Linked DNA regions of Homo sapiens. The protein of the gene in region 2 purifies or fractionates together with the protein of the main gene of each other region. This does not show direct contact. Each region holds a gene or a part of one and is shown on either strand. Other genes may lie near its edges. The genes, in order: CLTCL1 and TTC9B.

Evidence for each region.
Region 1: the proteins of TTC9B (region 2) and CLTCL1 purify together in Homo sapiens (affinity purification with mass spectrometry; 2 studies listed by BioGRID and IntAct, with this or other methods). This does not show direct contact.

What each region holds. Positions count from the first base shown.
Region 1 is NC_000022.11:19,281,592-19,285,397, reverse strand, and holds part of CLTCL1 (clathrin heavy chain 2), read left to right. Parts: intron 1-3,806. UniProt on the Homo sapiens protein: Clathrin is the major protein of the polyhedral coat of coated pits and vesicles. Two different adapter protein complexes link the clathrin lattice either to the plasma membrane or to the trans-Golgi network.
Region 2 is NC_000019.10:40,215,471-40,219,888, reverse strand, and holds TTC9B (tetratricopeptide repeat protein 9B), read left to right. Parts: upstream 1-1,504; 5' UTR 1,505-1,507; coding exon 1,508-1,934; intron 1,935-2,519; coding exon 2,520-2,702; intron 2,703-3,313; coding exon of another isoform or gene 3,314-3,546; exon of another isoform or gene 3,547-3,616; coding exon 3,617-3,726; 3' UTR 3,727-3,831; downstream 3,832-4,418.

The DNA.
Region 1 (3,806 bases), on a different chromosome or scaffold from region 2:
TGTAAGTTCTGGAAGAGACCTTAGTGTCAACATTCTTCATAGGCCCTCATTTACAGAGCTCCCTCTTTAGGCTAGGAAAGGCTCTTTGGTAAGTTTCTTTTTCTTTTTCTTTTTCTTTTTTTTAAGATGGAGTCTTGTTCTGTTGCCCAGGCTGGAGTGCAGTGGCACAATCTCGGCTCACTGCAACCTCTGCCTCCAGGGTTCACGCCATTCTCCTGCCTCAGCCTCCCGAGTAGCTGGGACTACAGGCACCCACCACCACGTCCAGCTAATTTTTTATATTTTTAGTAGAGACAGGGTTTCACCGTGTTAGCAAGGATGGTCTCGATCTCCTGACCTTGTGATCCGCCTGCCTCGGCCTCCCAAAGTGCTGGGATTACAGGCGTGAGCCACCGCGCCCAGCGTGTTTCAAATATAAAATGTGTTTTTTATTTTATTTTCTTGAGACAGAGTCTCGCTCTGTCCACCAGGCTGGAGTGCAGTGGCATGATCTCAGCTCACTGCAGCCTCTGCCTCCCCGGTTCAAGCGATTCTCCTGGCTTCAGCCTCCTGAGTAGCTCGGACTACAGGTGCGTGCCACCATGCCTGGCTAATTTTTGTATTTTTAGTAGAGATGGGGTTTCACCATGTTGGCCAGGATGGTCTTAATCTCTTGACCTCGTGATCCGCCCACCTCAGCCTCCCAAAGTGCTGGGATTACAGGTGTGAGCCACTGCACCCAGCCCATTTATTTTTTTGAAACAGAGTTTCACTCTTGTTGCCCAGGCTGGAATGCAATGGCGTGGTCTTGGCTCACTGCAGCCTCCGCTTCCCGTGTTCAAGTGATTCTCCTGTTTCAGCCTCCCAGGTAGCTGGGATTATAGGTGCCCGCCACCACACCCAGCTGATTTTTGTATTTTTATAGAGATGGGGTTTCATTATGTTGGCCAGGCTGGTCTCCAACTCCTGACCTCAGGTGATCCACCCGCCTCGGCCTCCCAAAGTGCTGGTATTACAGGCGTGAGCAGCCACGCCAGGCCCTCAAAGTATGTTTTAAAAACTGTAGATGAACTAAATTTTACTGCCCTGAAACAAGTAATTTGTTTTACTATTTGTTTACCATCCATATGCTAGGCACAAGGATAAAGCAGTGAGTGAGACTGGGAAGGAGACAGATACAGAAAGAAAAAATATTGGTGTCCACATAGGTGTGAAAACATGGGGATGTTCAGTGCAACTTAAGCATTCTGGCTTCACTGATGTAGGCAGTTGATGTTCTCACTAATACTCTTGTACAAACACAGTTGTAGTCCTCCCAGGCAGACATCTTCCTTAAGCCCCTTATACATAGAAACCACAGGACTATCAGATGAGTAATTTCTTTTTGCATATTCCCCAGTGTCAGATTTTTTTTTTTTTTTTTTTTTGAGACAGGGTCTGTCTCTGTCACCCAGGCTGGAGTGCAGTGGCACAATCTTGGCTCATTCCAGCCTCTGCCTCCTGGTTTCAAGCGATTCTTGTTCCTCAGCCTCCTGAGTAGCTGGGACCACAGGCGTGTGCCACCATGCTCAGCTAAGTTTTTTATTTTTACTAGAGACAGGGCTTCACCATGTTGACCAGGCTGGTCTCGAATTCCTGACCTCCAGTGATCTACCCGCCTCGGCCTCCCAAAGTGCTGGGATTACAGGCATGAGCCACCATGTCTGGCCCCCATTGTCAGATTTGAATTTTGATTGATTTAATTGCAGGCTTTGAGAACTGAAAAGGATCATTAGACAGCATCTTCTTTACCTTTCTTTAGTTAAATCTTATATATGCCATTTAAAATGTGTAGCTAAGGTCCAGTGCAGTGGTGCATGCCTGTAATCTCAGCACTTTGGGAGGCCGAGGAAAGTGGATCACTTGAGACCAGGAGTTCAAGACCAGCCTGGCCAACATGGCAAAACCCTGTCTCTACTAAAAATACAAAAATTAGCCAGGTGCAGTGGCGGACACCTGTATTCCCAGCTACTTGGGAGGCTGAGGCATGAGAATCGGTTGAGTGTGGGAGGCAGACTTTGCAGTAAGCCAAGATTGCACCACTGCACTCCAGCCTTGGCGACAGAGCAAGACTCTGTCTCAAAAGAAAGAAAAAAAGAAAGAAAATTTTTTTAAAAATGTGTAGCTAGGTTACCTATCAGAATAATATACTAGGGATCAGGAATCCTTGGTTATTTCTACTAACTAGTGAAAAAAAAAACAAACCTGGGCCAGGCCCTGTGGCTCACGCCTATAATCCCAGCACTTTGGGAGGCCGAGGCGGGTGGATCACTTGAAGTCAGGAGTTTGAGACCAGTCTGGCCAATGTGGTGAAACCCCGTCTCTACTGAAAATATGAAAATTAGCCAGGCGTGGTAGTGGGCACTTGTAGTCCCAGCTACTTGGGAGGCTGAGGCTGGAGAATCACTTGAACTGGGGAGGCAGAGGTTGCAATGAGCCGAGATGGTGCCACCACTGCACTCCAGCCTGGGTGACAGAGTAAGACTCTGTCTAAAAAAAAAAAAAAAAGGAAAGAAAGAAAGAAAAAACCTGGCTTTTCAGCACATCACTTTTCTGGGACTTAGTTCCTGCGTATGGAGAAAAACTCACAGTAGTATCTGGCATCTTAGATGGAAAAGTTATTTTTGTGGGATTGTCCTGTATTGAGCATTCCTGGCTAAATGAGTAGAGAATGAGTTCCCCACTCATTGTACTATTAAAACTACCCTTGCCCATTTCTTTTTTTCTTTTTCTTTTTCTTTTTTTTTTTTTGAGACAGAGTCTCGCTCTGTCGCCCAGGCTGGAGTGCAGTGGAGTGATCCTGGCTTGCTGCAGCCTCCACCTCCTGGGTTCTCCTGCCTCGGCCTCCTGAGTAGCTGGGATTACAGGCACATGCCACCAGGCCTAGCTAATTTTTGTATTTTTAGTGGAGACGGGGTTTCACCATGTTGGCCAGGCTGGTCTTGAACTCCTGATCTCAAGTGATCCACCCGTCTTGGCCTCCCAAAGTGCTGGGATTACAAGCGTGACCCACTGCGCCCGAACCCATTGCCTATTTCTTTTTTTTTTTTTGAGACGGAGTCTTGGCTCTGTCGCCAGGCTGGAGTGCAGTGGCGCGATCTTGGCTCACTGCAGCCTCCGCCTCCTGGGTTGAAGCAATTCTCCTGCCTCAGCCTCCCGAGTAGCTGAGACTACAGGTGCACGCCACCATGCCTGGCTAATTTTTGTGTTTTTAGTAGAGACGGGGTTTCACCATATTGGCCAGGATGGTCTCCATCTCTTGACCTTATGATCTGCCCACCTCGACCTCCCAAAGTGCTAGGATTATAGGCGTGAGCCACCGTGCCCGGCCGCCCCTTTCCCATTTCTGAAGAATGCAGAATAGCACTCCTGGTTGAGAACTACTGTCTTAATTTAATCTGATTCTAATAGTCTTTATCTTATTTTTGGATCCACTCTTCTCAGTTGTTAAAACACTGTCTTATTTGTGAGGGACTTTTACCTTTTTCAAATGCCATACATGTGTATGTATGCTCTTAGATAAGGAACTTGACTCAGCTACTATTATTTAAGAACCCACTATGCTCAAGAGATTGGATACAAATTATTCAGGATTACCAATTCTTGGTATTTGGAGTTGAAATCAGAATGTCACCGTATTAACCCAACATCGATCCCCAAACTGAGAACAAAAGGACAATTTAGAAAACCCAGGCCCACTTCAGTGCACTGCTCTGTCTGGAGAGCATCCAGTCCTATCCTGCTAAAGCCGGAAAATCCAGATAGGTAGACAAGACCAAGAATGATTG
Region 2 (4,418 bases):
CTATCCTCATGTCGCACAGACGAAGCCGAAGGAGGAGGATCGAGGAACTTGGCCCAGGTCCCACAGCTAAGGAGGCGGCAAAGGAGGACTGAAGGGCAGTTGACTCATTCATCCTCGATTTTTTTCTTGAAAGCCTCCTGCATGCTTCCTTTCCTGGGGACTTGTTTGCCCTCTCACTTGTTTTCCCCCATAGACAGCCGAGCTGGATGAGGGCAAGAAGGAGATCTCTCTTGTTTTTAGAGTTATTCCCTCCTCCAGGAAGACTTTATCACCACCTCAGCCCAGGGCAGGTACCTCCCACATCCCAGCCCCGACCCCTCTGCCTGTGCCTCTTCCACCTCGGCCCCGACCCCTCTGCCTGTGCTTCCCAGGCTAGCCTGCTCAGGGCTGTCACTGTCTGGTCACTGGTCTGTCTTCCCACTGAACTGGGGCCCAGTGAGAGTAGGGTCTGAAGCTCACGCAGTGTCTGCTATGTCCCAGCATCATCCAGCACAGAGCTGGGCACAGAAAGGATGTCAGTGAATATTTGTTTCATAAATTAACAGATGAATCCCAAAGGTGGTATTATTTTTAATTCCTTTCCTTTCCTTTTTTCTCTTTCCTCTTTCCCCTTTCCCCTTTCCTTTCCTTTCCTTTCCTTTCCTTTCCTTTCCTTTCCTTTCCTTTCCTTTCCTTTCCTTTCCTTTTTTGAGACGGCATCTCCCTCTGTCACCCAGGCTGGAGTGCAGTGGCACAATCTCGGCTCACTGCAACCTCTGCCTCCCAGGTTCAAGTGATTCTCCTGCCTCAGTCTCCCGAGTAGCTGGGACTACAGGTGCACGCCACCACACCAGGCTAATTTTTGTGTATATATACAAAAATTTTGTATATATTGTATATTAGTAGAGACGGAGTTTTGCCATATTGGCCAGGCTGGTCTCAAACTTCTGACCTCAAGCGATCCATCCACCTCGACCTCCCAAAGTGCTGGGATTACAGGCGTGAGCCACCTCGACTGGCCCTAAAGGTGATATTATTGTGCCATGTTACTGATGAGGATACAGAGTTCCAGGTAGTTTAAGCGAGCTGTCTAAGTCATACCACTAGTGAGAAAGTAAGCAGGGATTTGAATTTGGGAAGCTTGGGTCCAAATCCTGTGTTCTCATTCGATATGCCAAATGGCCAGTGGGCTGAGAGCCAGCTTTCCGTGAGGCTGATGTCTTCCTGCTCTTTCCCCCAGGCTCGTCCTTTCCTTCTAGAAATCTTCGGGAGCTTTGGGCACCGGGGAGGAGAGCAGGCAGGAGGTTGGGGAGGGTAAGGGGAATGGGAACAATTCGGGGGGCGGGCTGGAGAACTAGGACTTGGTTAATTTGAGAGTGAGCATGGGGGAAGTCTCGAGGGGTTTCCCTAGACCCATAGGGGGCAGCCGGAGTCGGCTGCCGGAGGTGAGGGGGCGGAGAAAGGGTGGGGACCAGCCCCGCGGGGGGCGATGCGGTAGCTGCAGCGGCGGCGGCAGGAGTTTCCCACAATGCAGCGCGGCGCGCTGTCCCCGGTGCTGATGCTCAGCGCTGCCCCGGAGCCTCCGCCGCGCCCGCCTCCCGCCCTCTCCCCACCGGGCTCGGGCCCAGGCTCGGGCTCCCGCCATGGCTCGGCTCGTCCCGGTCCTACCCCAGAGCCGTCGGGGAGCCTGGGCGCGGCGCTCGACAGCAGCCTGCGTGCCGCCGTGGCGTTCAAGGCAGAGGGCCAGCGCTGCTATCGAGAGAAGAAGTTCCGGGAGGCCATCGGCAAGTACCACCGAGCGCTGCTGCAGCTGAAGGCGGCGCAGGGGGCCCGCCCTAGCGGCCTGCCCGCCCCCGCCCCCGGGCCCACCAGCAGCCCCGGGCCGGCGCGCCTCAGCGAGGAGCAGCGGCGCCTGGTGGAGAGCACGGAGGTGGAGTGTTACGACTCCCTCACGGGTACGCCGTCGGGGGGTGGGGGGATGGGGCACGAGGGGAGGGGGCAATCGGGAGAGCTTGGCGACTTGGGGGCCAGGGGCCCTGGGGCTGAAGGGTCCAGGGCTGTGGGCTTCTGGGGGAGCCTTCAGAGCTTGATCAAGGAAAGGGATTAGGGGTAGGGGATGACAGGGGTCTGTGGCTGGAGGGAGCTGGGATGCAGGAAATGGTCTTTGGGTCGGGTATTCAGGGCCTCGCTTCCCCTGAGTCATTCTTTCCACCCCCTGGCCGCACGTGGACCCAAGGTGAGGAAGTCTGCCCTGAGCCAGGCTCTCGAGGTCCCGGCCCTCGCCCCCGCGCGGGGCCTTAGTGCTCTTGCCCACCGACAGCTCTGGGTGGATCGCCCAGTGGCGCCTGTCCGTGTTTTGGCGCCCCCTAGCAGCGGCGCAGTTGCGCCTGTTTCGATAGGCGAGCGGATTGGCGCCCCTGGTTGCCGGAGCAATCCCTTAGGCCTGGTTCCCTGCCGCCTGGAGCCTCGGCTCCTCGCAGTCAGGTGGGTTCTGGGGGTGCCAGCAGGCTCTGAGAGTGCCGGCCGCGGGGCCCTCGCAGCTTGCCTGCTGCAGTCGGAGCTGGTAAACTACGAGCGCGTGCGCGAGTACTGTCTCAAGGTACTGGAGAAGCAGCAGGGCAACTTCAAGGCCACCTACCGTGCCGGCATTGCCTTCTACCACCTGGGCGACTACGCACGCGCGCTGCGCTACCTGCAGGAGGCCCGCAGCCGGGAACCCACAGGTGAGTGGCGGGGCGGGGCAGAGGTGAGGGCTGGGCCCAGGGCGGGGAAAGGGGCTGCAGCGGAGGGAACAGGCAGGAAGATCAGGGCAGAATAGCAGAGCCCTCCTCCCGCGGAGCTGCTTCTAGGTAGGGCTGCGCCACCCACCTACTCCCTACACGCCCACTCATCCATTCATCCACCCCGCCCTTCACCCGCCATTCAAACATCCGTCCACCTATCGCTCCTCTGACATCTCCCCGGCCATTTCTCATCTACCGTCATTGCCACATCTGATATCTCCTATTCACCTGCTCAGTCACTTCCCTATCCACCCACTGTCATCTCCATTACCCCGTCCCACCCCTGCCTACCGCACACACTCATTCCTCCACTCACCCATTCACGCACACCTATTCATTCACTTCCTGCACCATCCACTCATCCACTCGGGTGGACGATGCCAGGAAATTGGGGTGTGTGTGTGTGTGCGTGCATGTGTGCACTTACACACATGAGTGCAGGAGGGCAGACACAACACTCAGTTTTGTATTAAGAGCCAATGAAGAAGGAAGAGGGATTACAACAGGTGCAGGGTTGTGGGAGCCGAGACGAGATTAGTTTTCCTGTTAAGTGGCTCGGAGAGAACAGACTTCTTGCAGATGTCGCTGGAGGATGAGAAGTGTGACGGGAGCCTCTGCGAAGAGGCATTCCTGGCAGAGGGTGCCGCAAATACAGGCGCACAGAGGTGTGCGATGGCTCCGCTGTGACTGGGGACTGCCGACTGTGACTGGGGCTTTGGGGAAGGGCTCTGGCTCTACTGGCTGTGTGAGCGAGCTGCTGGATACTTCGGAGAATGGGGTGTGAGCCAGGGAGGTGTGGAAGTCACCTGCTGCCCCGGGACACCCAGATGATGCCCTGCCCACCTCCCCTGCAGACACCAATGTGCTCCGCTACATCCAGCTGACTCAGCTGAAGATGAATCGTTGCAGCCTCCAGCGGGAAGACAGTGGGGCTGGGTCCCAGACTCGGGATGTAATTGGCTGAGGCCAATCCAGGGGGACCTCTCTATCCCTCGCCCTCCCACCTCACCATGTAACTTCCCCCGACTCATGTGTTTGTTGGTAAAACACTTGTCACTGGTGATCATAACTTGTGTGGTGTTCTTGGGGGGACCAGGGAGGGCCTCATCCCTTGGACCTTAGAAACCCAGAGAAGCCCAGGGAGGGTGTGTGGGGTCGGGGGGAATGTTCCACTGGGATGACCCAGCATCAGGGCCTGGGCCAGGGAAAGAAACAGTCTAGGCCAGGCGCAGTGGCTCACGCCTGTAATCCCAGCATTTTGGGAGGCCGAGATGGGTGGATCACTTGAGGTCAGGAGTTTGAGAGCAGCCTGGTCGACATGGTGAAACCCTGTCTCTACCAAAAATACAAAAATTATCTGGGTGTGGTGGCGGGAGCCTGTAGTCCCAGCTACTCATGAGGCTGAGGCAGAAGAATCACTTGAACCCAGGAGGCGGAGGTTGCAGTGAGCTGAGATGGTGCCACTGCACTCCAGCCTGGGCAACAGAGCAAGACTCTGTCTCCAAAAAAAAAAAAAAAAAAAAAAGGAAAAAGGAACACAATCAAGTGCGGTAGGGGGCAGGGGTTACCTTTAATGCTCCATTTTGTGCCAAATCCCCCATGATGCCCTGTCCCTGAGTATCCCTGCCCACCCTCCCCCCAGTGCAGGGTGGGCAC